4 linked regions of the Homo sapiens genome follow. The protein of the gene in region 3 interacts with the protein of the main gene of each other region in a biochemical or structural test. Each region holds a gene or a part of one and is shown on either strand. Other genes may lie near its edges. The genes, in order: PTPN11, ARHGEF12, IGF1R and RASA1.

What was found.
Region 1: the proteins of IGF1R (region 3) and PTPN11 form a complex in vitro, tested with the Homo sapiens proteins (one study listed by BioGRID).
Region 2: the proteins of IGF1R (region 3) and ARHGEF12 form a complex in vitro, tested with the Homo sapiens proteins (2 studies listed by BioGRID and IntAct, with this or other methods).
Region 4: the proteins of IGF1R (region 3) and RASA1 form a complex in vitro, tested with the Homo sapiens proteins (one study listed by BioGRID).

The regions. Positions count from the first base shown.
Region 1 is NC_000012.12:112,484,942-112,491,963, forward strand, and holds part of PTPN11 (tyrosine-protein phosphatase non-receptor type 11), read left to right. Parts: intron 1-1,521; coding exon of another isoform or gene 1,522-1,533; coding exon 1,534-1,688; coding exon of another isoform or gene 1,689-1,692; exon of another isoform or gene 1,693-1,982; intron 1,983-3,501; coding exon 3,502-3,569; intron 3,570-4,082; coding exon 4,083-4,234; intron 4,235-4,242; exon of another isoform or gene 4,243-5,047; intron 5,048-6,076; exon of another isoform or gene 6,077-6,483; intron 6,484-7,022. UniProt on the Homo sapiens protein: Acts downstream of various receptor and cytoplasmic protein tyrosine kinases to participate in the signal transduction from the cell surface to the nucleus. Positively regulates MAPK signal transduction pathway. Dephosphorylates GAB1, ARHGAP35 and EGFR.
Region 2 is NC_000011.10:120,479,412-120,486,433, forward strand, and holds part of ARHGEF12 (rho guanine nucleotide exchange factor 12), read left to right. Parts: intron 1-548; coding exon 549-1,019; intron 1,020-1,848; coding exon 1,849-2,165; intron 2,166-5,026; coding exon 5,027-5,096; intron 5,097-5,655; coding exon 5,656-5,666; 3' UTR 5,667-7,022. UniProt on the Homo sapiens protein: May play a role in the regulation of RhoA GTPase by guanine nucleotide-binding alpha-12 (GNA12) and alpha-13 (GNA13). Acts as guanine nucleotide exchange factor (GEF) for RhoA GTPase and may act as GTPase-activating protein (GAP) for GNA12 and GNA13.
Region 3 is NC_000015.10:98,910,522-98,917,543, forward strand, and holds part of IGF1R (insulin-like growth factor 1 receptor isoform 1 precursor), read left to right. Parts: intron 1-793; coding exon 794-920; intron 921-2,522; coding exon 2,523-2,761; intron 2,762-5,442; coding exon 5,443-5,610; intron 5,611-6,150; coding exon 6,151-6,355; intron 6,356-7,022. UniProt on the Homo sapiens protein: Receptor tyrosine kinase which mediates actions of insulin-like growth factor 1 (IGF1). Binds IGF1 with high affinity and IGF2 and insulin (INS) with a lower affinity. The activated IGF1R is involved in cell growth and survival control.
Region 4 is NC_000005.10:87,262,957-87,270,892, reverse strand, and holds the start of RASA1 (ras GTPase-activating protein 1), read right to left. Parts: upstream 3,011-7,936; 5' UTR 2,442-3,010; coding exon 1,903-2,441; exon of another isoform or gene 1,846-1,902; coding exon of another isoform or gene 1,838-1,845; intron 1-1,837. UniProt on the Homo sapiens protein: Inhibitory regulator of the Ras-cyclic AMP pathway. Stimulates the GTPase of normal but not oncogenic Ras p21; this stimulation may be further increased in the presence of NCK1.

The sequences.
Region 1 (7,022 bases), on a different chromosome or scaffold from region 3:
AGTGTCCTTTTACATCCCTTTTAAAAATGTCACTTAAGGCTGGGCAAAGTGGCTCATGCCTGTAATCCCTGCACTTTGGGAGGCTGAAGTGGGTGGATTACTTGAGGTCAGGAGTACAAGACCAGCCTGGCCAACATGGCGAAACTCCTTCTCTACTAAAATTAGCTGGATGTGGTACATGCCTGTAGTCCCAGCTACTCGGGAGTCGAGTCTGAGGCCCAAGAATTGCTTGAATCGGGGAGGCGTAGGTTGCAGTGAGCTGTGATCAGGTCACTGTGCACCAGCCTGGATGACAGAGTGAGACTCTGTCTCAAAAAAAAAAGTCACTTAGCTTAGATTGTCTCTACATATATAGGAAGAAGATGTAGGAATGAATGGTGCTGCTACAATTACGTCATCTGGATAGACCCAGAAACATGATACTTTTTGGTTTTCTGTAGCCTTGGTGCCATTGTTGATCTTTATTAATTATCATTATCCTCAAAATAGCCATAATGTGCTGAGTCTCTTCCTATTTGCTGGGCAGAGGCTGAGTATTTCAGCGAGCTCACTGAGTCCTTAAAATTGCATTATGATAGAGAGAAAGAGATTATTATTTGCATTTTGCAAAATGAAGAAATTGAGGTTTAGAGATACCCAAGGGCCACGTGAGTGTGAGTGCCTGGAATTGGAGCCTAAATCTAGTCATCTGATAGCAAAGCCTGTTTTCTTATCTGCTTTGCATTAAATATAAGTTTAAAATAGAACAATACTGGCCAGGCTGGGTGGCTCACGCCTGTAATCCCAGCACTTTGGGAGGTCGAGGCAGGCAGATCACCTGAGGTCAGGAGTTTGCAACCAGCCTGGCCAATATGGCGAAAGAAACCCCATCGCTACTAAAAATACAAAAATTAGCCAGGCATGGTGATGTGTGCCTGTAATCCCAGCTACTTGGGAGGCTGAGGCAGGAGAATGGCTTGAACCCGGGAGGCAGAGGTTGCAGTGAGCCAAGATCACGCCACTGCACTCCAGCCTGGGCAACAGAGTAAGACTCTGTCTTGGAAAAAAAAAAAAAAAAGAATGATACTATAGTCTGTGTTTATATGGTGGGGAAGGTTGAGTATCAAAAAAATAACAAAGAGGAATGAATGTCTTAAGTGAATGCCTGTTTCCCCATCTGCTTCCTCTTCTGCTGGGAGGAGAGACCTGGATCCCTAGAGGTTTCAGTTGCCTCCAGAGCTGAGTGCCACAGGGATGCAGGGGAATAGGGATGTTACCTGTCGCTGGTAATTCAGAGAGATGATTCAGGGTATAGTTACCTGAAAGAACAAATTGCCATGCCAGACGTCTTGGTTCTTATGACAGAGGCAAAGAGTTGCCTCCAGGATTGCCCAAAAGGAGACGAGTTCTGGGAACCTCACGAAGAGGACCTTTCAGTGGAACCTGGGGAGATTCTCTTCCTCTCCATTGGATTTAGGAAAGCTTAGAACCGGGTGATTCCTCAACCTCTTGATTTATTTAATTCTTTTCTGGTTTTTCTTGGCTCTACTCCAGGGGAATACGGAGAGAACGGTCTGGCAATACCACTTTCGGACCTGGCCGGACCACGGCGTGCCCAGCGACCCTGGGGGCGTGCTGGACTTCCTGGAGGAGGTGCACCATAAGCAGGAGAGCATCATGGATGCAGGGCCGGTCGTGGTGCACTGCAGGTGACAGCTCCTGCTGCCCCTCTAGGCCACAGCCTGTCCCTGTCTCCTAGCGCCCAGGGCTTGCTTTTACCTACCCACTCCTAGCTCTTTAACTGTAGGAAGAATTTAATATCTGTTTGAGGCATAGAGCAACTGCATTGAGGGACATTTTGATCCCAAGGCATATTTCTCCTAGACCCTACAGCACTGCCATTGGCCATGGCCATGGCAACATGCTCAGTTAAAACAGCAAAGACTAAGTCAGCATTATCTCTGAGTCCACCAGAAGTTGTGCATTAAACAACTTCATCCTGGCTCTGCAGTTTCTCCTTATTCTTCATGATGTTTGCTTTGTAGCTGTTGACTGCTTTGTAGGTATTGAGGTGGTGGGGGTGTGGTGGAAATAGGCCTGACTCTTGAGGATCCCTTAAGTCATTTTTGCTTGGTTCTCTTTTTCCTTCTTTTCTTCTACTCTTCTATGATTCATCTCTTTGATTGTGATTCTGTTCTCTCTCTCTCTCTCTCTTTTTTTTTTTTCGTTTTTGAGACAGAGTCTTGTTTTGTTGCCCAGGCTAGAGTGCAGTGGTGCCATCTTGGCTCACTGCAACCTCCGCCTCCCGGGTTCAGGCCATTCTCCTGCCTCAGCCTCCCAAGTAGCTGGGATTACAGGCATCTGACACTACGCCCGGCTAATTTTTGTATTTTAATAGAGACAAGGTTTTGTCATGTTGGCCAGGCTGGTCTCGAACCCTTGACCTCAGGTGATCCACCTGCCTTGTCCTTCCAAAGTGCTGGGATTACAGGTATGAGCTACCATGCCCGGCCCATTCTGTTCTCTTCTACCATAAATATATTTCTCCCCTAACACTATATTTGTTTGCTTCACAAGATTCCAGCTGCTTTTCCACCAAGGCCTTTGATGGAAGCTGTGCTGTGACCTCTGTAATGAGTCTGTGGGCTGCTGATTCTCCAGTTTGGGCTTCATGATTATACTGGGGAATATTGGGTTTCCTAAATCTCATTCATTTCTTGGGCAAGTAGATATATGTGAAAGTGTTTATTTGTCCAGTTGTTAAAGAAGCTACCATTTATTGAGCCAGCCTCTGAGCACAATGTTTTTTGTTTTGTTTTGTTTTTAATTTTTAAAATTATTTACTTCTTCTATTTCAATAACTTTATTATTATTATTTTTTGAGACAGAGTCTCACTCTGTCACCCAGGCTAGAGTGCAATTGAGCGATCTTAGCTCACTGCAACCTCTGCTTTCTGGGTTCAAGCAATTCTCATGTCTCAGCCTCCCGAGTAGCTGGGATTACTGGTACGTGACAACATGCCTGGCTAATTTTTGTGTTTTTAGTAGAGACGAGGTTTTGCTATGTTGGCCAGGCTGGTCTGGAACTCCTGGCCCCAAGTGATCCTCCTGCCTCGGCCTCCCAAAGTGCTGGTATTATAGGTGAGAGCCACTGCGCCCGGCCCTCTTTCAGTAATTTTGATGTATTTTTTTGTATATGATTCCTGTTTCATTCTGTCCAACCAGCACTCTGTATGGTATGTGCTGTTGTCCCCATTTCACAGATGCAGAAATTAAGGGTCAGAGAGGTTAAGGGACTTACCTCAGGCACGTTGTACTGGAGAAGCTGAACTCCAAGAGCAGGTTTGGGCTGACTCCAAAGCCCTATGCTTTTTGCCAACATATTTTCAAACATAAATAGACAATTTTATAAATAGCTCCAAAGAGTAGACATTGTTTCTGTTGATATTAATGGCTTGGTTTTGAGTCTGAAACCCCCATGAATGATTCTGTTGTCCCTGCTTTTTGTCCTTCTGCCCGCAGTGCTGGAATTGGCCGGACAGGGACGTTCATTGTGATTGATATTCTTATTGACATCATCAGAGAGAAAGGTGGGTCATCTGGTGGGCAAGAAGCGACAGTTTCTGTTTTTAGTTTATGGAAGGAAAGTGCTCACGAAAACAGTCTGGGGAAGAGAGGTTGAATGGGAAAATTCTTTCACAAAAATCTGGGCTGAAGACTTCAGTGTGTCTGCCTGAGAACAGAAGTGACACTATTTGAGCTTTTGGCATAAAATGAAGTCTAGGAGCTGCAGAACCCACTGCCATGGCCTTTTGTTGCATACACAGTGGTGGTCTCTATCCAGCCACCTGACCTTGTTTACAGTATGGGGTGATTTGTTGGCAAGTGAGGGAATCCTGACTTCTGCCACTTCGTTATTTATGTAGTCTTCTGGGATCATTGGTATTGGTCAGAAGTTCAACACTGTAGCCATTGCAACATGCTCAGTTAAAACAGCAAAGACTAAATTAGCATTGTCTCTGAGTCCACTAAAAGTTGTGCATTAAACAACTTCATCCTGGCTCTGCAGTTTCTCTTTATTCTTCATGATGTTTCCTTCGTAGGTGTTGACTGCGATATTGACGTTCCCAAAACCATCCAGATGGTGCGGTCTCAGAGGTCAGGGATGGTCCAGACAGAAGCACAGTACCGATTTATCTATATGGCGGTCCAGCATTATATTGAAACACTACAGCGCAGGATTGAAGAAGAGCAGGTACCAGCCTGAGGGCTGGCATGCGGATTCTCATTCTCTTGCTAGGCCTCTTGGATACGCTCTCCTTTTGAGCAGGAGGACAGGCTCTGATAGACAACTGTTTGATTTCGGAATGGGAAACAAACTCCCAACTAAAAGGGCCTCTGGAAACTGTCAATTATTCTCCACTTCTCAGCTCTGATTTTTCACTGCAGAGGAGCTTAGGGAAGGGCACCATCCTATCAGCCTGGCCTGCCAGATTGAAGAACTGCCATGCAGAAAGGTTCTGATGTTCTCAGGCTCATGTGGCAAGCGTAAAACTCAAAGCCTTGAAGTTTCTAGCCTGTTCCAGCCTTGATCCAGGCCATGTTTATCCTGATTCCATCCTTTAAAACGAATGCCTCACTCTTAATAGCGCACGGCAGTTTGAACCACTAATTTGGTCGAGTTGGAAACAGTGAAATTTCAATTTTAATAAGCTGTGCATAATGAAGAGGAATGTGGAATTGGAGCCTTTCCATCTGAAGCTATTCATAACAGGCACAAAGCTGAGTTAATTAGGAATATGCTGAGATGAAGGAAATGAGGAGAGCTGCTCTTTTGGGGGCTGTGCTTCTCTCCCCAACCCCTCAACCCCATTGCCATGCTGCAGATGGGGTGGTGTCTAAACATCAGTGGCGAGTGCCTGCATTACTCTGCTCGTTGCCTTCCAGAGAACTCAGCTTCTCCAAATGCTGAGCTCTTTTCAGAATGGGACCTGCCACCAGTATTTGAAAGATTTCTAGCCTAGCAGAACAGCAGCCACGTTATCAAAGTTTGGTTGGCCAAAGGAAGGTACTTGCTAATTAGTTTAGTAGGTTTTCAGTCCGCACAGACATACGGGATTGTTTTATTGTACATAGACATCTTCAGAAACAGTGTATGTATAGAAATGTAAGGTCAAAATTTGAACCTCAGTGCTTTAAATCTGAATTTGTATTAACTGATATGAAATATTTAGACGGTTACTTTATTTTATATCTGTCTTCCATTATACTTAATTTGGCTCAAGAATAGTTAGGCAAAAAGTTGCCCAAAGAGAAGGATCTCCTAGTAAATACAAAGAGAATGTAACATAGTTGCTACAAGTTGGAGCATGTTCAGGGATGTCTTTTTTTTTTTTTTTTTTTGAGAGAGAGGTCTCTCTCTGTTGCCCAGGCTGGAGTGCAGTGGTGTAATCATGGCTCACTGCAGCCTCAATCTCCCAGGCTTAAGCGATCCTCCCACCTCAGCCTCCCAAGTAGCTGGGACTATAGGCATGCGCCACCACACCTAGCTAATTTTCGCATTTTTTGTAGTGTCACAGTTTCGCCATGTTGCCCAGGCTAGTCTCGAATTCCTAGGCTCAAGCAGTGCTTCTGCCTCAGCCTCTCTGAGTAGTTAGGACTACAAATTTGTGGCTCCATGCCCGGCTAATTTTTTTATCTTTATTTTGTAGAGACAAGGTCTCACTGTGTTGCCCAGGCTAGTCTTGAACTCCTGGGCTCAAACAACCCTCCCACTTTGGGTTTCCAAAGTGCTGGGATTACAAGTGTGAGCCACTGAGCCCAGTGACCTCTGGGTTTTAAAAATGTGTAGGCTTCAATTATTTATTTTAAAAAATGAAATCCTGCAATATATAGTTTTCTGCGTTGTGTGGTTTGAATCAATCTGGGAACTGGCTTGCTGGCTGATTGTGGTAAAGTAAGAAGTACTTAATTTAGTAGAAAGTTTAAATGGCAGACATAACATTAAACCCAGCTGATTTATAAATGAAGCAAAAGAACAAAACTCATTCAGGATAATTGGTTATTCTAAAATACAGTCATTTCTAAAATTATGAAGTGTTCAGGACCTTTGGGAGTGAAAGAATTTGCTAAAGAAGGATCAGTGAAAAAAAGGAATGATGGGTGAAGAGCTGTGGAGAAGGAAGAGAAGAAACAGCACAAGGAAGGAAGAATATAAAATCAGATGTGGGAATCCAGGGGAAAGTGCAAACGAAGCAAGATTGAGAAAATTCTCAAGTTTTTATAAACAGTTCTCACACTCTGCCAGTTCCTTGGAGGTAGACTTTTTTGTTAACTTCCAACTACAGTAGTGAAAAAAAAAAAAAAACCCTCAAATTTGCAAAAGCAGTCTGTGGAATTTTCTTTACCCAGCTTTCCTGACTGTTAACTTTTTAGCACACTTAACTTTATCATTCGTTTATTCTCTCTGTTTAAAATTAAAAATGTAAATTTTAAAAAGTAAAATGTTTGTTGGTTACAAACATTTATACCCCTTTGTCTCTAAATATCATTTCATTTTAAAAAATGAATAATCTAAGCCTACACATTCTAAAATGTGTATATTTTCTAAAAATAAGGGCATTCTCTTACATAACCAATGTCACAATTATTTGATACAGTGATCAAAATCAGGAAACTAACATTGATATAACACTATTATCTAACCTACAGACCATCTTCAAATTTTGTCCTGCTAGTATCTTTTATGGGTCCAGGGTCACACAGTGCATTTGGCTATAATGTATCTTTTTTCTCTTTTTTTGAGACAGGGTCTCACTTTGTTGCCCAGGTTGGAGTGCAGTGGTGCAATTATGGCTCACGGCAGCCTTGACCTCCTTGGGCTCAGGTGATCCTCCCACCTCAGCCTCTCGAGTAGCTGGAGACCACAGGTGTGCACCACCATGCCTGGCTAAGTTTTGTATTTTTTGTAGAGATGGAGCTTCGCCGTGTTGCCCCGGCTGGCCTTGAACTCCTGGGCTCAAGTGACCCTCCCGCCTTGGCCT
Region 2 (7,022 bases), on a different chromosome or scaffold from region 3:
TATCATTGTCTGGGTGACCTCATAGCATACACTTGGCCCATTCAAAATTAAATTGGTTCTTATTTTCAGTAAATGTATGTATCTCATAAAATTAGAGGAAATAATATGCATATAGTGTCTGGATCTGGAAAAAGCAGAACTTTTTTTTAGCTTTTTCTGTCTAGCTTAACACAGCCTTTCAACATTCTTAAGAAGTACCTTTAGGGTATTATTCTAGTTATATAGAAGAAAAAATAGAGGCATGATATTGGTTATTGAGGAGTTCTAAATAGTAGTATCTCCCTATTCAGAATGCTTAGATCTTTTCAAGTTTAGTTTAACGTTAAATCTTCTCTAAAAGATGGTGCTTTATTTCATCTTCAAAACAAAATGGAAAATGATTGTATGAAGTAAGATGATTGTATGAAATTAATAATTAACATTTTAATATGTCATTAAAAGATACTTTTTAAAGATAGATCATTGGTAAGTCAGCTAATTTAATTCTTGCAGCCTGAGGTTATAGTTGTGAATATGTTTTTTTTCCCCCTCCTTCCTAAATCGTTTAGTGGGTTTGTTGAAGCAGTTGCTGGTGCAACAGCTAGGTTTGACTGAGAAGAGCGTTCAGGAAGACTGGCAACATTTCCCAAGATACAGAACAGCCTCTCAGGGGCCGCAGACAGACAGTGTCATCCAGAACTCTGAAAATATTAAGGCCTATCATTCTGGTGAAGGACATATGCCCTTTAGAACTGGAACTGGTGACATTGCAACTTGTTACAGTCCACGGACTTCAACTGAATCTTTTGCTCCACGGGATTCAGTGGGACTGGCACCCCAGGATAGCCAGGCAAGTAACATTTTAGTAATGGACCACATGATTATGACCCCAGAGATGCCTACCATGGAGCCAGAAGGGGGTCTTGATGACAGTGGAGAGCACTTTTTTGATGCCCGTGAAGCACATAGTGATGAGAATCCATCAGAAGGTGATGGAGCAGTTAACAAGGAAGAGAAGGATGTTAATTTACGCATCTCAGGCAAGTATCTTTCACACTTAAACTTTGATTTTGATTTTGATCATTGTTAACTGTCCTGTATTTTGAAATGGATGTTGTATTGGTATCCAGGTGTGTGTGTGTGTGTGTGTTCACACATGTGCAATATTTATTCCTTCATTTGATAAATACTGAATCTACTCTGTACCAGACCTCATCATAGGTGCTGGGAGATATAGCAGTGAATAAAACACAGAAAAATCCCATCTTCTCATGAAGCTAGGGGAAAGAAGGATGGTAAATAAGTAAACAAATAAATAGACTTCAGGAAGTATTAGGAAGAAACATAAGTCAGACTGAGGGGACGGAGAGTAATGAAGGCAAACAGGGTGATCAGGGATTAGGACCTCCGATGAGGTAGCATTTGAGCAGAGACCTCAATGAAATGAGGGAATAAAGCCGGGTGGGTACCTGGGAGCTTACTATTCCAGCAGAGAGCAGAGTGGGGCAGAGGCTTTGTGTCAAAGAGCAAGCTTTTTGTGGTGATCGAACACTGGATGAGGGAGACAATGGCAGGAGATGGGGCAAGAGAGGCGTTTGGCAGGGGAAGTGGTAGCAAGATCATTTAGGCACTGTAGTTTCCAGCTTTAAACTTTTGAAATGAAATTTTTTGGAAATTACCATGAAAGTTTGCAGAGTTTAGCTTTCATCTGAAGTGAGGAAATTCTGATGTACCTGAAACTAAACTCAGGAATTAATGGCTTTTCCCTCTCTTAATAACTTTTCAAGTTGAAGTTGTCAGCACACTATGCTATTTCTGTTTTCTAATGGCAGCACTGGTCTTATCAAACTATTCTGTCTCTATCCATAGGAAACTATTTGATCCTTGATGGCTATGACCCAGTGCAGGAGAGTTCCACAGATGAGGAGGTTGCTTCCTCACTTACCCTGCAGCCCATGACAGGCATCCCTGCTGTGGAATCCACCCACCAGCAGCAACATTCTCCTCAGAATACTCACTCCGATGGGGCAATTTCACCATTCACCCCCGAATTTCTGGTCCAGCAGCGCTGGGGAGCTATGGAGTATTCCTGTTTTGAGATCCAGAGTCCCTCCTCTTGTGCAGATTCACAGAGCCAGATCATGGAGTACATTCATAAGATAGAGGCTGACCTTGAACACTTAAAGGTACCTCATACTTCCACATCCATAGGACTTGGTTGTAAGAAACATTTAGCAGAGGGGAAGAATAGGGTGATGAAAATGCTGATGTCAATAAACTTGTTCAGGTTCTAGATTTCTTTGACTATTATCCATGAATAGGCCTGGGTAAAAAGTTGAGATTGGCATTGTTTATCTTTTTCTTTCTTTCTTTTTTTTTTTTTTTTTGAGACGGAGTCTCGCTCTGTCAACCAGGCTAGAGTGCAGTGGCGTGATCTCAGCTCACTGCAAGCTCTGCCTTCCAGGTTCACACCATTCTCCTGCCTCAGCCTCCCAAGCAGCTGGGACTACAGGCACCCGCCCCCACGCCCAGCTAATTTTTTGTATTTTTAATAGAGACGGGGTTTCACCATGTTAGCCAGGATGGTCTCGATCTCCTGACCTCGTGATCCGCCTGCCTCGGCCTCCCAAAGTACTGGGATTACAGGCGTGAGCCACCGCGCCCAGTCGGCATTGTTTATCTTTTGACTATCACAAGAGCAGAAAAAGTTGCAGCTCTGTGAACTGTGTGTTTGTATGGGTGTCTAAGTTTAAGAACCTGAAATGCTTCGGGTAGTTGGCTGGCCTCTGTCAGACATGAACAAGAAGATGAGATAGGTAGGGTTTATGTAGTTATGAATCTAGGCTGAGAAATGCTATGACTTTCTGTAGCCTATTATCTGTGACTCATTAGGTGACATTGGCAGCTTCCCAAATCCTATGACAGATAGAAATTGGCTTCAGTGGCTCCTGTAATCTAAAAACATGGTCATGCATGGGATTTTTGTAGATTGGTAATTGAAGATGTCACTATTGCAAAACTGACTTGTGTGGCAATTTCCAAGAGAAAGACCTATCTTAAAGTTTTCCATCAGAGGCAGGGCACGGTGGCTCACGCCTGTAATTCCAGCACTTTGGGAGGCAAGGCAGGCGGATCACGAGGTCAGGAGATCGAGACCATCCTTGCTAACACGGTGAAACCCCGTCTCTACTAAAAATAAAAAAAATCAGCCAGGTGTGGTGGTGGGCGCCTGTAGTCCCAGCTACTCAGGAGGCTGAGGCAGGAGAATGGCATGAACCTGGGAGGCGGAGCTTGCAGGGAGCTGAGATCACGCCACTGCACTCCAACCTGGGTGACAGAGCGAGACTCTGTCTCAAAAAAAAAAAAAAAAGTTTGCCATCAGAAAACACAGCTTCCAGAGCCCAAACATTTTCCTCATGACATCATTTACACCAGAGACTTGAGGGGTAGATTTAAGTATCCTTAGCCTTTGAGTTAAAGACTGGTCTCCCTTAGTTTCTCTTTTACCTTCATATAATTGATTTTTCCCTCTTCATGTTACTTATTTTATGTAGTATCATTCTGTAGCTGATGAGATATCGACAAGCCCATTGAGGACAGGTCGGTTCTTATATACAGTCATGTGTTGCTTAGCAATGGGGATATATTCTGAGAAATTCATCATTAGGCATTTTTATCTTTGTGTGAACTTCACAGAGTGTACTTACACAAACCTAGATAGAATATATCTTTATTTACATAGATTTTTTCATATGGAAAGCCAAATCTCTCAACACTATTACTGAATATTAGTCATTTCCCCTACCTGATCAGCAATGCCATTATTAAGTGCCACACACCAGGTTTCTACATGTGCTCCATAATAATCTTTTTTTTTTTTTTTTTTTTTTGAGACAGTCTTGCTCTGTCACCCAGGCTGGAGTGCAGTGGCGCTATTTCGGCTCACTGCAACCTCTGCCTCCCAGGTTCAAGCGATTCTCCTGCCTTGGCCTCCCAAGGAGCTGGGACTACAGGCACCACCACCATGCCCAGATAAATTTTTTTTTTTTTTTAAATGGAGTCTCGGTCTGTCACCCAGGCTGGAGTGCAATGGTGCAATCTCGGCTCACCGCAACCTCCGCCTCCCGGGTTCAAGCGATTCTCCTGCCTCAGCTTCCTGAGTAGCTGGGATTACAGGTGCCCGCCACCACACCCAGCTAATTTTTTTCTATCTTTTAATTTATTTATGTATTTATATTTTTTGAGACAGAGTCTTGCTCTGTCGCCCAGGCTGGAGTGCAGTGGCATGATCTCTCCTCACTGCAAGCTCCACCTCCCAGGTTCACGCCATTCTCCTGCCTCAGCCTCCCCAGTAGCTGGGACTACAGGCGCCTGCCACCATGCCCGGCTAATTTTTTTTATTTTTAGTAGAGACGGGGTTTCACCATGTTAGCCTGGATGGTCTCGATCTCCTGACCTCGTGATCCGCCTGCCTCGGCCTCCCAAAGTGTTGGGATTACAGGCGTGAGCCACCGCGCCCAGTCCCAGCTAATTTTTATAATTTTAGTAGAGACAGGATTTCACCATGTTGGCCAGGCTGGTCTGGAACTCCTGACCTCAGGTGATCCACCTGCCTCGGCCTCCCAAAGTGCTGGGATTACAGGCGTGAGCCACCATGCCCCACCCATAATAATCTTAAGGGACCATCATCATGTATGCAGGCCGCCATGTCTTTATGTGCTGCATGACTATAGCTCATGCACATGATGACGGGACCATGTCCAGGGTGACTCCTGGGGGTGGGAGAATTGCATCTATGGTTACCACCTCTACTTTCTTTTTACATGGGAAAATACTAAGTTATTCCTTCAGTGGAGAAATTGGTAAAAGGAATGAAATTTACTTTTTTCTTCCCACTAATGAAATTTTTAATGATGAAGTTAATATTTTTGAAATTTGGGGGCTTGTACCTGTAATGTAAAAAGGGCTTCTTTTCTGTTTTCTGAAGTTTTTGTTTTGTTTTGTTTCATTACGTTTGAATAAAAAACCTATGGGTTTTATTTCACAGAAGGTGGAGGAAAGTTACACCATTCTTTGCCAAAGGCTGGCTGGATCAGCCCTCACAGACAAGCACTCAGGTATGTAAAAGTTATGAGTTCCAGACTCTAGACTAATCATCCTACACTGAATGAAATGACTTATCATACTTTGAAGTGAAAACCTTCTGAGATTCCATTTCTCTTCTGTCTTTAAAGAACTGCCTGTTTCTAAACATCAGATATCAAGCGGAAGCTCATGCCTGCTGACTCTACTCTTCTCTAAGAGGAACTGCAGTTGTCAGTTCCCATACCATCCCCTCTTCTCTCTCTTTTCACCTTTTCAAAGCAGAAGGCAGAGCAGTGGGAAGCCTGGTAAATCACAGATTCGGTGTGAGGCTTACTGGTACTGCTGTGACTCCCTAGTGTGGAGGATTTGGCCTTATTGGATGTTGGTGCACTTGCCTCTGCTGACAGTGTGGCTGGTGTCTCCCCTGACTGCAGATGGATTTGTGTTCCCTGCAGCAGTTTATACTCATCTGCTTACATACTGATTCAGAAACAAAGATTGAACCACGCCCACAGATGTCATGGGTATTCTTTGCAATGTTAGTATATTCTTTTTCTTAATATCATTTCCATGTATCTTTATTCTTCTCAGATAAAAGTTAGAGCCGCATGTCCTGGAGGTGACTGCAGGTTGTTGGATTTGGAGTATCGGCCGTGTCTCACCACATCCTGGCTCCAGTGTGGATGCAGAGAGAGTGTGACAGAGGATCTGCCTGTGAACCACCTGGGATTAGTCAAGTCCCAAGGTGCCCAGAGTGGGACTAGTTCTTCACAGTGTGGCAGCTGCACTAATCTGTTTGTGAGGGAATATCCATTCCCTCACTCTACTCTCCTCACTATCGGAAATTCATTTTGATTCAGAATAAAAACCAAATGTATAGAGCTTTGGGTGTAGGATATGAAATTGTACTTAGATTTAAGAAAAAGAGAAAATCAGATGTATTTATTTGACTTCATTCCGTATTTGAAAGCACATTTTAATTTTTATTTGCCTTGTTTTGTTTTAATTGAGTAGTGAGAGTTTTAGACCTTTGTCTTTAGTACACCCAAGGATCAACTGCTCCTGAAGCAAAGAGGTCAGGATGGAGTATGCAGAAGTTGGGTAGAGAGGTTAAGAAGAGGAGGAAGTGAGACGGGGAAGGGAGGAGCACCTTGCTTCACTATACAGTATTCCAAGCTCTCTGCTGTCCAGTAGGCTGCTTCTCTGAGGGTCACCTCAAAGGTATGCTATGCCGTGTGGCTCTTATGTGCCCAGGTGGTGTGGTCAGAGAGTGGATGGGCTTCCTCCCGCCCTGAGGCAAGCACCTCTTCTCTGTAGCTGGGATCAACCACAATTAATAGGAATCCTCAACATACTAAATAGCAGGCACTTGAAAATGGGTGTGTTTTCTTCCATTGTCGTCTTTTCTATTGAGGGTTGGGATTTGGGTGGGAGAGGAAAGCAAATTTTATTTTCTTGACTATAAATTTGTTATTCTTGGTATCATTTCATTTTTATAATTATACATTAGACATTGGCACTTGTGTAAAACTGTCCCTGCAGATTGAGCAGGAAGTAAAAACAAATGGAAATGCTTCGGATAGTGGCAGGGGTGGGGGTTGCTAAGGAAAGGGTGGGATGGGAGTGGGTAAAGAGTTTGGGAAGGTTATCTAACTGAATCACTACTGAGTTGAATCATGGCTATCATTAGCCACAGGTACTGCTGATTATAAGGCCAGTAAAATTTTAGTACCTGGAGGTTTGACTCTAATTTTTGCACTGATGGTGCCAAAGGGCCCTGAGTCAAAAGGATAGCCAAGGGTGGAGTGGAAAAAGATATGGTGAAGGCAGAACTGCTCACACCAGCTCCAGAAGCACGTCCTCTGACTTCACTGCCGCAGCTCTTTCCACACGGGGCCGTGATTGACCCTAAAAATTGCAGACCAGCACATACACTGGACACTGCAGGCAAGGTGTTG
Region 3 (7,022 bases):
AGGGCGAAAGGACAATTCGTCAGAGAGCTCTGGGTCTCCATGAGGGTGGGCAGTCATCAGTCTTTCCCTGGTCCTTATCGTAGTTTGAATTTGGTCCAAGGAATAAGAGAGACACTTGGCACAGCTTCCCTGCCATACCCGCCAGCCAGGCTACTTCCCATAGAGCACGTTAGGCTTGGCCAAGTGAGATCTTCTTGTCAGTGCTTAATCCAGCCTCCCGTTGTTTGTCAGCCCTAGCTGGAGGCCTCACAGGAGTTCCTGTGTCCTTCCAGTTTGATACCAAGTTTAGACCAAGAAAAGTTCCTTTCTGTGGCACACCTGTAGTCTCTTACCTGTCTTTGGTGGTTGTACACGAACAGGCAGATATCCACAACTGCAGAACAAGTGTCATCGTCTCTCTTAAGAAGTTTCAGGGCAGCCTAAAGGCTCACCTTCACCCTACCAGGCCCCCTTTCATAGCCAGGATCTTAGGGATGGAGAAGAAAGATAAGTTCACCTCGTTCACTGAAGTCGCCCCTTGTTTTCAGGTTAGGAAACCCAGGTTCATGTCCAAGTCCCTGGGCAAGTAGCCAGCGTAACTGATTGACCTAAAACAAAGGATGGAGCCCTTGGAGCTCTGCATAGTGAAATGTATGATTTCTTAGTGGAAAACGAGAAAGCCACTGAGGAAGCCCAGAAGGGAACTTAGCATATACAGCCAGCTTTGGGGAAGGGGGAAGCAGTGCCAAGCAAGACAGGTGCTTTTCAGAGACACATGAATCTCTGTCACTCACGGATGTACTCTTTGCCCCAGGTGAAAGTGACGTCCTGCATTTCACCTCCACCACCACGTCGAAGAATCGCATCATCATAACCTGGCACCGGTACCGGCCCCCTGACTACAGGGATCTCATCAGCTTCACCGTTTACTACAAGGAAGCGTGAGTTTCTGCTTTGGGTGATGCCATTCTGTTGACAGGGCTACGAATGGGAGAGGCCAGTCTTTCGATCCTTGAATGGGCTGGCTGAATACAGGGGGTCAGCAGAGTCCCCAGGGAGAGCCACGCCAAACATCCCTACTTCATCCTCATGCACCCTCTCGGGCTGTCCCTGTGATGTCAGTCACAGCCAGTGACAGCCATGATTGGGAAAGTGTTAGCTCGAGGCCTGTCATTCTTTAGTGAGTGATTAGAGGTGTTTGAATAAAATAAACCCAAAATGGGGAAAGCTTGCTTTTTCCAGAATTAGGTCAGTCCAGACTCATGAACGATGATGGGGGACTTCACTGAAATATCGTTTCAGCCTCCTTACCTACTAGGCCTACTCCAGGAACACCCTGCAGGCACGTGGCTCTTTTGTATCATCTTATTCCTGTCTCTCTCTCTGTGTGCCTCTCCCAAGCTGTGGCCCTCTGCTCTAGGTCATGAGCCTTCCAAACAAGCGAAGAAAAGTGGAGAGAGAACAACCTTCATGTCTTGAGCCTTTTGTGACTTCTCCTAGACTCTGTTGGGAGCTTTTCCTGTGTGATCACATGACATTCCCCCATCTAAGCAGCCGAGGCTTATTCCTCCCGACTGCAGCCCTCTTTGATCTCCCTCTTCCTTCCTTTGCCTTCTATATCCAGGTGGCTACCCCGGTCTACTTAGCCATCCCCCTTACCCAGGTCCCATGTTAATCCCATAGTTCTCTCTCCCAGATGTGTGGCTTCCAAAGAGCAGCAACCAGAGGCACCTTATGACAGCATCTTGTACTCTTTCCTCCTGCCAGAGCTGGGGTCCTATGAATGAGAAATTGGGTACTTAGGATTACTAGGCTTTCAGAGTTTGTACACAGGGGAGCCCCTCATGATCTCCCATCCCATGACAGCAGACGGTGTTTTGTTCATGTTTGTTTCAGAAGCCAGCGGCCAGCAGCTGTCCAGCCCTTTTAGCTGATAAATATAAAATACCTACCCAACCATGCATCTGTGCGAAGTACTATATTCTCTGATAGTCACACCAGTGCTTTGGCAATGTCAGCTGGTAATTTCACTGAGGACTTGATGCTGGTTTCTAAGGCAATCTGGAAACTAAATATTTGAATATTATAAGATGCTTAAGCATCAGAATTGTTTATGAGCAATCTGAATTTTAGAAGCTACTTCTGTTTGTCTGTAGGAAAGTCATTTTTCTCCAACAGTTACCTTCTTTCAATATCTGATATTTGCATTAACTGACTATGCTTGTTTTTTTCTTGATGAAAAAATGCTGCAATCAGAAGAGAGAAAAATAGTTTTTGCATATGTTCTTAAGGAATAGTAACTATTGAATCCCAGTAACTGTTGAAGTGGCTCTTCCTGAGGCAGACCATTCAATTCTGTAATGCCCGACTGGGGAAGCCCAGAGTCCAGTCACTTCATTTCTTCTTCTATAAAAGTCTAATTGATTATTTGTTTATTTAGACCTCCCATTATAGAAAGTGTGACATGCTGGGCCTCTGGGGAAGATTTTTGAGGGTTTTGATGTCAGAGCCCCGAACTTTCTCTGAACTTAATTGTCTTTCAGACCCTTTAAGAATGTCACAGAGTATGATGGGCAGGATGCCTGCGGCTCCAACAGCTGGAACATGGTGGACGTGGACCTCCCGCCCAACAAGGACGTGGAGCCCGGCATCTTACTACATGGGCTGAAGCCCTGGACTCAGTACGCCGTTTACGTCAAGGCTGTGACCCTCACCATGGTGGAGAACGACCATATCCGTGGGGCCAAGAGTGAGATCTTGTACATTCGCACCAATGCTTCAGGTATCCATGCCTAGACAAGCCCCCAGCATCCACACTTCTTCGCAAGCTCACTGGCCTTGCTTGTACCAGGTGTCATTGTAGGGTTAGCAGTGAGCTATGCCTGTTGTCTTTCTTGTCAATAGGTAATACTGTGTCATATTCATTTCCCCACTGCTAACACATTAGGCTCTTCTGTGCCATTTTCTGGCCTCGGTACTATCTTCCATCATCTCCTGCTTTGTGCCTGTGAGCCCAGGTCCTCCAGGGTGCTGGGCTGGTTTCATTGGAAGGCCCAGCCTGGAAACAGCCGTCTTCAGCTGCCCTTGTTTCTTGTTTGTTTTGATGTTCAATCCTCCAGGAACTGAAACCATGCTGATCTGTGTTCCACTTAATTCATGTAGCTCACTGGTTTTCCATCTTCATTCTGGAGCTTATAGAGTTCCAAAGAGGTCAACAAAAGTTGAAAGCCTGCAGATGTAGTATGTTGTGGATATTCAGAGTATTCACTGATGATGAGGTTCCTCCTTCCTTTATCTTTAGGTTCTAAACCATCTCATTTCTCAACTCCAGATCTGGAAACAGTAAAAGCAAACGTTAATAGTTTCCAGTATATAAAAACTAGTTTAGAAGTAGGAAAATCCACTTCAGTTTTAAAGACACTGATTGTTTTAGTGTATTGGAGCTTCTATCACAAAAAAACAGTGTAGCCTGGGTGGCTTATAAGCAATAGAAATGTATTTCTCACAGTTCCAGAAGCCACAAAGTGCAAGATCAAGGCGCTGGCAGATTTGGTGTCTGGTGAGGGCCCACTCCCTGGCTCATAGATGGCTGTCTTTTCATTGTGTCCTTGCATGGTGGCAGGGATGCGGGAGCACTCTCCGGGGCCTCTCATAGAAGGGCCTGGATTCCATTCATGAGGGCTTCACTCCCATGACCCAATCACCTCCCAAAGGCCATGCCTCCTAATTCCATCCCCTTAGGGGTTAGGATTTTGACATGTGAGTTTTGGTAGGGGACACAGGCATTCACTCTATAGCACTGATAAACATTCTTTGATAATAGCCATTATTTTAGTGGGTAAGGTGTTTTTAAATACCCATAAGCGAGCACAAAATCAGTTTAAATGGCAGAGAGGAGGGTGAGAAGAAAATGCTGGTGGGGAAAACCTTTTGCTGTGCACGCCTGCTCCTTCCTCCACTCCTACCCCATCTCCATGACCCTGTAAGTGGCCACAGTCATGTCACTGGGTAAAGTGCTTATTGAAACAAAATTGGCACAGGCTTCTGATCCTGCGTGTGGGTTGGTGTAGCAGAGGTTCAGTGCAACAGAAGAAGTTTTTCATCTTAAAATTTGGAAGTAACCCCTGGCCAGCAATTCACTGTAGTGTTTGGGAAACATAGGAATATCTGCTTATTGTGACAGATTCTCAAGAAACCTGTTTCCTTTCCACAAAGATGGAAACCAGGCACTGTACCAATGAGTCAGTTCACTACGTTTTGTCCTCTGTCCTTACACGCAGCGGAGACAGACGAGAACTTGGTCCTCTGCCTCTGCTGTTTGGTGACACCTATCGTAAGAATGTATCTAGGAATGAGCTGTTTGTTTTTGAAGTACTTATTTTTGGAAACCCTAAAGTGGCTGAGCATCAAGTGGTTGTGTTTTCTCTGAAAACGCCAGTATTAGTCATAACCTTTTTCCAAAGTATCATCCCTTAAAGATGTTCAGAACCTTGTGTGTATCGTATAACCTGGAGCACCCTCAAGCTGTCCGCCCTTTTCAAGTTTTAAAAATGGCTTAGGCAAACATATTGCTTAAGTGATATCCAGTGAAGGTGTCTCCTGTGCTTTGAAAAACCATCAACATTGATGCTTTTTTGTGACCCAATAAGGACAAGATTTCAGTGGTTCTGGGATGCATTTGATCTTTATGCACACTTCAGCTCTGGGTTTCAGTTCAGGGGTCAGCATAAGTAAAGCTTGATCAGATAACTATGCTTTGCCTATAATCGGCATTCATTCTGCTGGTGACAGAGTCCTTTGCTCAAAATGAGGCTTCCATGCGTTTGCAGTTCTAAACTGCTTTTCAGAGTCATGCCTCAGTCATTGTACTGAAGGATGCCTGTGGAAATGGTGGACTTCCGTGTTCTTTGCATTGCCTCTCCCCCATCCCTCTTACACACAGCTGTGACATGGGCATGCACACTCCTTCACACACACAGACTCTCCAGGCCCCTTTCCACTTCCTCTTTCCATTTGGCTTCATGACATTTTTATCAGAGATTCAAAATCTCAGATGAAATCCAAGTCAGCCTGTTTTACCAGTTGTCGAAATTGCCGGAGTGCAGCACTGTGGAGAATGGCAGTTGTAATAAATGAGAAATACCAGGTGTTTGAATTAGCTGTAGATTTTCACATTGTCTCTTCTAACCCTGCTTGTGCCCCCGCAGCCTTTTTCCATTTACAACTCAGTAATGTTTGTTTTCACAGAGATTACCGGAGGAAATAGATTATAAAGGGAAATGTTGGCATTTATAGTAGTACTATTTCAAAATAAGGTTCACTTTTCACTTTGTATTTCATTGTTCATTGTTATTTTCTTATCCAGGTCAAACTGGCAGTTTCCTGTTGGCTTGCCAGAGTATCTGATAGCCTGACTCTTAAGTTCATTTCATTTTCTAGAATGTTCTTTGTTCCCCTCTCCAGTTCCTTCCATTCCCTTGGACGTTCTTTCAGCATCGAACTCCTCTTCTCAGTTAATCGTGAAGTGGAACCCTCCCTCTCTGCCCAACGGCAACCTGAGTTACTACATTGTGCGCTGGCAGCGGCAGCCTCAGGACGGCTACCTTTACCGGCACAATTACTGCTCCAAAGGTAAGGGTGCAGCAGCGGCCTGGACGGAGGGTGTGACCGTTCATTCCTGTGGTTGTAATGTGCCTGAGCCCTAATATTACACGTATCAGACAACAGTGTAGTTCTCCATTGGAAACCAGCTATCTTCTGGTTTTTTTTTTTTTTTTTTGAGACAGAGTCTCACTCTGTTGCCCAGGCTGGAGTGCAGTGGCACGATCATGGCTCACTGCAATTTCTGCCTCCCAGGTTCAAGCATTTCTCATTCCCCAGCATTCCGAGTAGCTGGGATTACAGGCATGCACCACCATGCCCAGCTAATTTTTGTATTTTTAGTAGAGACGGGGTTTCACCATGTTGCCCAGGCTGGTCTGAAACTCCTAACCTCAGGTGATTTGCCCGCCTCGGCCTCCCAAAGTGCTGGGATTATAGCCTTGAGCCACCACATCTGGCCGAGACCAGCTATCTTCTTGATTAAAGGTACTGAGAGCTATTATTTTTCCTTACAAGCATGTATAACGGCTTTCATTCCCACTCTTGTTTTGGCTTTTCTTTTCCGAGAAGACAAAATCCCCATCAGGAAGTATGCCGACGGCACCATCGACATTGAGGAGGTCACAGAGAACCCCAAGACTGAGGTGTGTGGTGGGGAGAAAGGGCCTTGCTGCGCCTGCCCCAAAACTGAAGCCGAGAAGCAGGCCGAGAAGGAGGAGGCTGAATACCGCAAAGTCTTTGAGAATTTCCTGCACAACTCCATCTTCGTGCCCAGGTACCCAGCTCATGTGAAATTTCAGTTGGCAAAACCCACTGCTCAGGCCGGTTCTGTTGCCTTTCTCCCCACCAGGTAGTGTGTAAGTCAGCAGCTGGGGGGTACAATACAGTAGCCACTGAGACGGAGCCGAAAAAGATGACAGGTTCGGTGAAGTGAGTCCCTGCGGAAGCCAGTCAGCCCTGAAGGGAACAGGGACCAGGGCTTGGGTTGCTGGGGCCACCGGTGTGACAGGTACTGCTGTCTCAGCCACAACCCCCCACAGAGAGCAGGTGGGCACCCTGTGGTAGAGGCAGGGAGGGGAAACTCAAAGAGTATTGACAGCTGCTGCCTGGTGAGAGGAAAGGCCAGGATTTGGGTCCATCTCTGCCCTTCCTAATTATCTTTACTGCCTCTCTCAGCCTCACAGAGGAGGAGTGAAGCAAGAGGGAAAAAAGTCAGAGTCTGTGCTGGAAAGGGCCTGACTTCAAAACATAGCCAGGTGCCACAGGCATCCTGTACAAGTAAGTTTGGGAAGCAGTGTAGGGCGACAGCCTGCATTGGCTGTTTATTCCGTGGTTACTCTGTCTTTCAAAGCAACACAGCCCCTGCCCCAGGGACTCTGCTCCTCTGCTGTGGTCTTGGTTTCTGGGGAGTGGGGACAAAAGCAGAGGAAAGTAAACGTTCA
Region 4 (7,936 bases), on a different chromosome or scaffold from region 3:
AACCAAACTCTGACGAAAGACTTGAATCCTTTATTGAGGAATATAAAAAGTGGAATACTACATCCCGTTGGCTGGCATAAATATGACTAACTTTACTTTTCCCCTTTAAGTATCAAAAGATGTAGCCTTAAGTCAAAAATGGATTAGGGTAACAGAATCTTTTCCTAATTAGTTTCAGAACTTTCTAAATGCTCCAAAGAAGCTTATCCAAAAAAAAAAAAAAAAAAAAAAAAAAAAAAAAAAAAAGGCCGGGCACCGTGGCTTACGGCTGTAATCCCACCACTTTGGGAGGCTGAGGCCGGCGGATCACCTGAGGTCAGGAGTTCGACATCAGTTTGGCCATATGGCGAAATTTCGTCTCTATTAAAAATACAAAAATTAGCCAGACATGGTGGCATGCGCCTGTAATCCCAGCTACTAGAGAGGCTGAAGCAGGAGAATCTCTTGAACCCGGGAGGCGGAGGTTGCAGTGAGCCGAGATCACGCCACTGCACTCCAGCCTGGGCAACAAGGCGAGACTCCATCTCTGGGGTGGGGGGAAGGAAAAAAAAAAAAACCTCTGAATTGTCCAGAGTGACTGTCAACATATGAACCAAATCTTTTTTTCTTGATATTCAACAAAGTTGTCAAAATTCTTTTTTTTTTTTTTTTGAGACAGAGTCTCGCTCTGTCACCCAGGCTGGAGTGCAGCGGCACGATCTCGGCTCACTGCAACCTCCGCCTCCTGGGTTCAAGCGATTCTTCTGCCTCAGCCTCCCAAGTAGCTAGGATTATAGGCGCGTGCCACCGCGTCCGGCTTATTTTTGTATTTTTAGTAGAGACAGGGTTTCACCAGGTTGGCCAGGTTGGTCTCGAACTCCTGACCTCAGGTGATCCGCCCACCTCAGCCTCTCAAAGTGCTGGGATTACAGGTGTGAGCCACTGCGCCCGGCCGGTTGTTAAAATTCTAAGGGTCAATTAAGGGTTATATGAGAAATCTATAACAAGTTTTGCCTAATAACACTTCCCATCTCAACATTTTCATCAAGGTCCACCTTTAAGAATAAACACCTAAGTTCAATTAAGACAAGTGAGGAGGAGGTATTAACTTACATTTTAAAAAAGTCATTGTCCTGTATATTTTACAGACTGTAAAACTTAATTTTTAAATAGAATACTATACTGGCCACCAACAAAAAATGTTTAAGGGAAGCTCTATTGATTTTGTTTTGCCTCACTGTTGTACTTCCAAAGTCTCCACTATAAAAGCAGTGCGTTAATATTAAGTGGCAAGCCTATGGAAGAAGATACATTGTTGGAATATAGGCTCTTAATCACACCTATAATACACAGGATTCCTTTCCTTTCTCTCTGACCCAAGTTCTCATTAAGTGACCCAAAGACTCTTCTGCATCACTATGCTTTCTCTAATCAGAAGCTGGGCTGTGCACTGAAATAAAAACATTCTAACCAATACATTTTTCAAATTATTACTATAGTACTCGTTTAAACACCTGTATTCAAAGCTTCTCACTAATCATCTAGCTTTATCAAGTAACACACACAAGTTAATATACACTATGACTGCCTTGGTAGCCGCAGTTTGACTAAATTCTGGGACACCACCTCAACTTGGAAGGGACAGAACTATATCCGGTTCTCATTAGATACACATTTTCTCATGCTTTCCATCTTAAAGACTTTACACTTTCCCAGAGGAGCAATAAATGTAGGAAGACGCCAGGTAGTATGCCTGTAAGGAAGATAAGTGATCAGATTAAATTCCTACCCAAGAAACCTGAAACTTCAAAAACTTTTCCTAACAAACCACAGATGAAAAGGACAAAGTATGATTTACCCCTTCATTTCCACTTCTTTTCTGGAGCCAGCTTCCCAAATTCCTGAACAGCAGTCTTAACTTACTGGTTAGTTGGAGGAGCGGTCAACGGTATGGCCACCTCTTCCTCCTCGTATTCTGGTCCATCCAGAGAGTCACCTTCGTCCACTGTCCCGAGGCCCGCCCCCAAAGGGGGCAGGTAAGGGGGAGGGGGCAGAGGGGGAAAACCGCCGCCTGGCCCGAGAGTCTCAGCAAGCAACGAAGTGGGCAGTTTGGTGAGAGCCATGTCTCCACTAGGTCCAGCAACAGCAGCACCGGCCACGCCAGCAGCAGCACCAGCTACGCCAGCAGCAGTACCTCCCCCTGTCAGTCCAGCTCCCCCCAGTGCCCCTGCCACAGACCCGGCTCCTAGGAACTCTGACCCCAAAGCGGCTCCGCCACCCAGAGTTCCAGCCACTCCGGTCTCCACCAGCCCAGGATAGGGGGCGGCTGCCACAGGCAGGGCCGCGGGTATCTTCACCCGACACACTGCGGGATAGGCACTGGAGCCCGCTGCCGCGCCGCCTCCTCCAGCTCCGGCTGTTACCGGGCCGCCCTCCTCACTGCCGGCCTCGGCCGCCATCATGTTGAAGCCCGCTCTACTCTGCCCTACCCTGCCCGCCCGGGAGCCCCAGGGGCCACCAGGCCCGGGCTCCGAGCAGCCCCACCCAGACGCGTCTCCCCTTCAGCTCCCCAGGCTGAGGAAACAACAACAAAAGGAGAGAGCCCGCCGCCGCGCCCCCTCCTAGGGCCACAGCCCAGGCTCCCCAGCTGCCTGGGTTACGGGAAGCCAAGTGGGCAAAAAACCCAACGCCTGCACAAACGCCACCCAAACCTCACCGCACACACCCACACTCACGCACACAAACACATGTACAGAAGCGAAAACTTCCTCGCTGCACTAAAGAGGAAAGGAAGCACAGGGAAAGAGGCTGAGGCTGCTACCGCTCCTTCAGCCGCCACCACCGCTTCTTCACCACCCCAGTTCCGGCCACCCACACCGCAGCCACCGCCGGTGCCGCTGCTGAGGCTGGGGCCACTGCAGCCGCTTCATCCTCCACCAGGCAGATGAGAGGGGTGGGGGGGCAAGAGAAAGGGGGGCGGGGTAACGAGGAAATCGACTGAACTGCTCACTACCTGGAGCTCTCAGTGAGTGAAACGGGAGAGAGAGAAAGGAAGGCGGGGCAGGGGAGGAGGGACGGAGGGAAGGAAGGGCGGAGAAGGGAGAGGGCAGCTTGTGCGCAGGCGCGTTCCCGGAGCGGGGGCGGGGGGCCGGGCCGGGAGGAAAAGGAAGAGTCCAGAGGGAAGGAAGCGGCGGGGACGCGCGGTGCGTGGTCGCGCTTGCTGTCCTCCTCCGGTTCCAAGCGTGTGGCGGCGCGGCCGCATCTCCTGTTGGCGTGGCCGGCGGCGCGCGCCTGTCTCCCGGGGCTTTGTTTGATGGGCGGGAGAAGAGGGAAGGGTACCTGAGCACGCGGGTGCTTGGCGCTGTTAAAGCCGGAGAGACCAGAGGGGGACCAGGAGGCGGTGGAGAGGAAGGAGGGGGAAAGGGAAAGGAAAATGCCCAGAAACTAGTTCCGTACTTCCTGACCAGTGGAAAAAACAGCCTTAACCAGCAGCGCAGAAACCGGGCAGGGGTCAGGTAGCTTTGAAGATCGGGGCAGTACTATTAATGTTTTCTTTTTCGTTGCATGCTATAAATCACTATGACTATCTCACACACACACAGTTAAAATAGATTCTGAAACTCCAAAACGAAATAAAGGGCACCATATGAGAAGGGTGAAGAATTTGAGTAGAAATAGTGGTTATGAAGTAAGATTTCTACCAGTATTTGCATACGTTTTTCTTTATCAACTGTCTCATATACTTACCTATGCCATTATAAGTCTGTTGGATACTGATGAAGAGGAGGAGGTGCCACAGAAAACACTAATCAATGCACTTTTGTCCTGGTTTGTGTGCAAAAGACTGCAGGACGTGATCCACAATGCAAGCACCTTCAACAAGTCAAATGTCAAGAATGTCCCAGAATGCTAGTTATAATTATATATCGTTTCAAAAGTAGCAATAAACTGAAAACTCATTTTTAATACAATTAAGGAGAAGGGTGTTATTTTGTCTTTTACACTAAAATGTATACAAACTATGCATTCATGTAGAGGGAGCTTCCCATGGTTTGAAATTAACAATATTGTTAAATTCTCCCAGGAGTGATCCCACATTAAATACCATTGGATATTGATCTTTGAGATCAATATTTTCTGTGCTAAGGATGATCAAACTAACACTCAGGATGGCAAGTGGCTGTGATAGAAACCCAGGAAAAAGAGAAAAGACCACTAAAAGACGTGACAAGATACAGGCAATGCATTGCCTTTGTAAGTTTGCACAGGCCTATTTACCTAGTCAATGACAACAATCCAACTTGATTAGGAGTAGTCCTGGGGCCTCCATTACGCATATCTCTTAGCAGTGTGCTACCTGGGAGAAGGAAGATGGACCAGTCACAGGAGCTAGAGTTCTCAAAGTGAATTCAGGCCGCAACATCCTAGGAATTCAGAAATGCCACCTCAGACCTTCTGAATCAGAAAATATGCAGCGATCCATTTTAACAAACCCTCCAAGTGATTGTTTGCACACTTAAGTTTGAGAACCACTATATTAATGTATAGTATACTAATCAAGAAGGAGGTATGCAATACCTAAAAACGGTTCTGAAAGAAATAATAAATGTCATTCATTAGGTGGGTAGGTAAAATAGGCGGGTTTTGAGTTGCCAAGCTCTGTGCTGTTCTAGAAATGAGAATGAAGTAGTTCCATAATACTTAATAATGAAGTACTACTTATGGTGGCCTCCCTGAGAACAGTTTTCTTTTAAACTTAGACCCTCAGTTAGACAAGACTATCAAAATACCTACTCTACTTACTGTCTGCTGTGTGAACACCAAGTGCAACAATCCCAACAAATCTTAATATAGCCTGTGCTTGAAAACCTCCAGTGTGTTAGCATCCCAATCCTCCAACATTCCTGTCCCAGTCACCACTGTCAGCCCTTGAATGCAGGACATTGAACTGGCAGGTTATCACCGGCTCTTGGTTATCACTGATTTCTAAATGTTCACACACCCTCTGTATGTTGCCTGGGAGTCCAGGTGAGGCTCACTACTCTTACTGCAGAATTACCTCCTCCTTTTTGACAATTCTTTAGCACTTGTAAAGGTCAATATTTAATGCAGTCTAACACCTATCAAATGCTCAATTAAATGTTTTCTAGACTTTTAGGTGTATGTACCTACAAAACTGTACTGCAAATACAACCTGTGGTCTATTCTACTGCCTAGCCCAGTCCTAGGCAACCTCAGTATGCTACTTTGAACAGATCTTCATCCTTTTAACAAATACCAAATTTGATCAGCTCCCATCTTTGGAAATCAATTTCTTAACCAGTAGGAAATAACTACTATGTCTATTTGTAAATCAGCCTTATACCAATATCTTACCTAGTTTTTGTTTAGCCTTAGAGTTAGCCCTGTTCTTTTCCTCCAAAGAAATTGCCACATATTTTTATGAGGTATTTTCAGATATTTAATATATTCCTATTATTGGATAGATCTAGGCTCTAATCTTTACTATTGCTTGTGTACTTTCTGAATCTCAAATACGTTGTCTATCTTTATTTTCATTTTTTCCAAAAGGATTTAATGTTTCTACTTAATTTTTGTCCATTGCCTTTCTTTTCTACCCACCTTAACTTTCTGCCCAGTTAACAAAGGGAAGTAAACTATCTTAATTAAATTCACAGATATTAAACAGGGAGGTATTGAAAAACAGAATAGTACACAAAAGAAAGAAAATTCAAAATATATTTTACCTTTAGTAAAATAAGCTATTATATCTGTGATTTTAGAAAAGTTACTCTGGATCTTGAAACATAGTATTTAATGAAGACTAAATAATAAAAAGTGCTGGACAAAAACTTGTGTATGAAAAGAAACTGAAAATTTAAGAAATGAAGTTGGCTCATTCTGGTTTCATTGGCAACTGAAATATGAATGTGGCCGGGTGCGGTGGCTCACGCCTGTAATCCTAGCACTTTGGAAGGCCGAGGCGGGCAGATCACAAGGTCAGGAGATCGAGACAATCCTGGCTAACACTCCAGCCTGGGTGACAGAGCAAGACTCTGTCTCAAAAAAAAAAAAAAGAAAAAGAAATATGAATGTACTACGTTCCAAAATATTTTATAGTTTTGATATCTTGAGTATGTGGAAAGGTAATTCTAACTCAGTAACATAACTGTAATTTTAGAGGACCTTAGAGCATAGGTAAGAATAGTTTCTGATGGGAGGACTAACCAAGAAGTAATAAAGAGCTTACTGCTGTGTTTGAAGAATGCCAAATTGTGTTCCATGCCCTAGTACATATTGAGTTACACAAATAGCCTTCCAAATTTACCTAAATAGTATCAAAAGGTTTCATTGACCCAATAATTTTGAAAGAAAGCCTTTACTTCTAACCCTAATGTCCCCACTGCATTTATTGACTTTATCTTAAAACCCTCCAGAGCACAAATTTTTTTATTACAAAGATCTTATGAGAAAATAACATCGAGGAGATACAGGTTAAAGGAAATACTTTGATGAAAAGGCAAATAACTCTGCAGAGATTACAATATGTGGTATAATAACTAAGATTTATGAAAATTATAAATACCATAGAGAAATTGAAGAACTGTGTGATGATCTCTGAGGCTGTAAAATAAATTACAAGGTAAATTATCCAGAGCTCTCTCAAAACATTCAAACCAATATATGAGTAAAGAAGATTAGAACAGTTAGATCTAAATATCTCTTAAAATATAAAATAATAGAAAAATATATTTTTTTTTTTTACTTTATTCCTATTTTGTCTTTATATTGCAGATACTTCATTATTTTTTGTCAGAACCTTTCCTCCTTCATGATTTCTAGTCTCTTTTTCTTTACCTATTATTTTACTCTGACCAGGCACATTTATGTATTTTCCTTTCTTTGCCTGGCTCCTATATATGATAGTACCTCATGGTAGAAGTAAAGGAGAAAAGGGAACGGAATGGTTTCAAGGCAAAGAATGTGGGAGAGTCGGGTGGGTAGGACTTTGCCATATTTCCCTCATTATTACACTCCCATTTTTCACAGATAATATTTTTTGAATATGCCAGCAACAATTTAAATAGCACCTGAAGCACAGTCATGAAATCCAACTAAGCTTTGGTCTTTTCACCTCAAGAATCCTGCAGTCTCTAATTCAAGTTACATTCTTTGGTCTACCTGAGAGTCTTCCAGGAATGCTTTCACTTGCAAATTCAGTTAGTATGGCAATACACACCGCTCTTTAAAGTAACTATACAATGAAAGGGCTAAGTGGAGCCTTGAGTCAGATAATTATCATAAATAAGGTGAGAGCTTTAACTACTGCAAATGCACTGTAAGTAGTGTAACTTTACTCAACTAAAAACAGCTTTCTATTTCTAACTATAATTATTTCTCAATCCGCGTGCTCTTTTGAAGACTTTTCAACTTCACTTGTTATCTTACTAGAACTCTTATTTTTCAACTTCCTATTCACTGTTTATCGAATAGTTTTTAAAAAGCAATGAAATATGACATGTAAATATAATGGTATGTATCAGTGATGTTCAGACTTCTGGGTTTCATAGACTACTAAAGTTTCCACAAAAATTGAGAGACTACAGAATTGCCAATTATGAGTTTGCCAATGTTGTGAAGAGAGAAGTATTTTGTTATTACAACAAAACTGCCATTTCCTGCTGCTTTATTTCATAAAAGGAAAGGACATTTCAAAGCAGGGAGAAAGAGGGAAGGAGGAAAGAGAAAGGATGGAAATAATTTTAGAAAAAAAAGGAAAAGTCCTTAGAATTACATAAATTTAGCTTCATGAAATATTCATCATATATTATGTTCTTATTTTATCTTTTTCCATGGATGCATTAAAAATTGGCATTGAAGGCCAGGCATGGTGGCTCAAGACTATAATCCCAGTACTTTGGGAGGCCAAGGCAGGAGGATCACTTGAGCCCTGGAG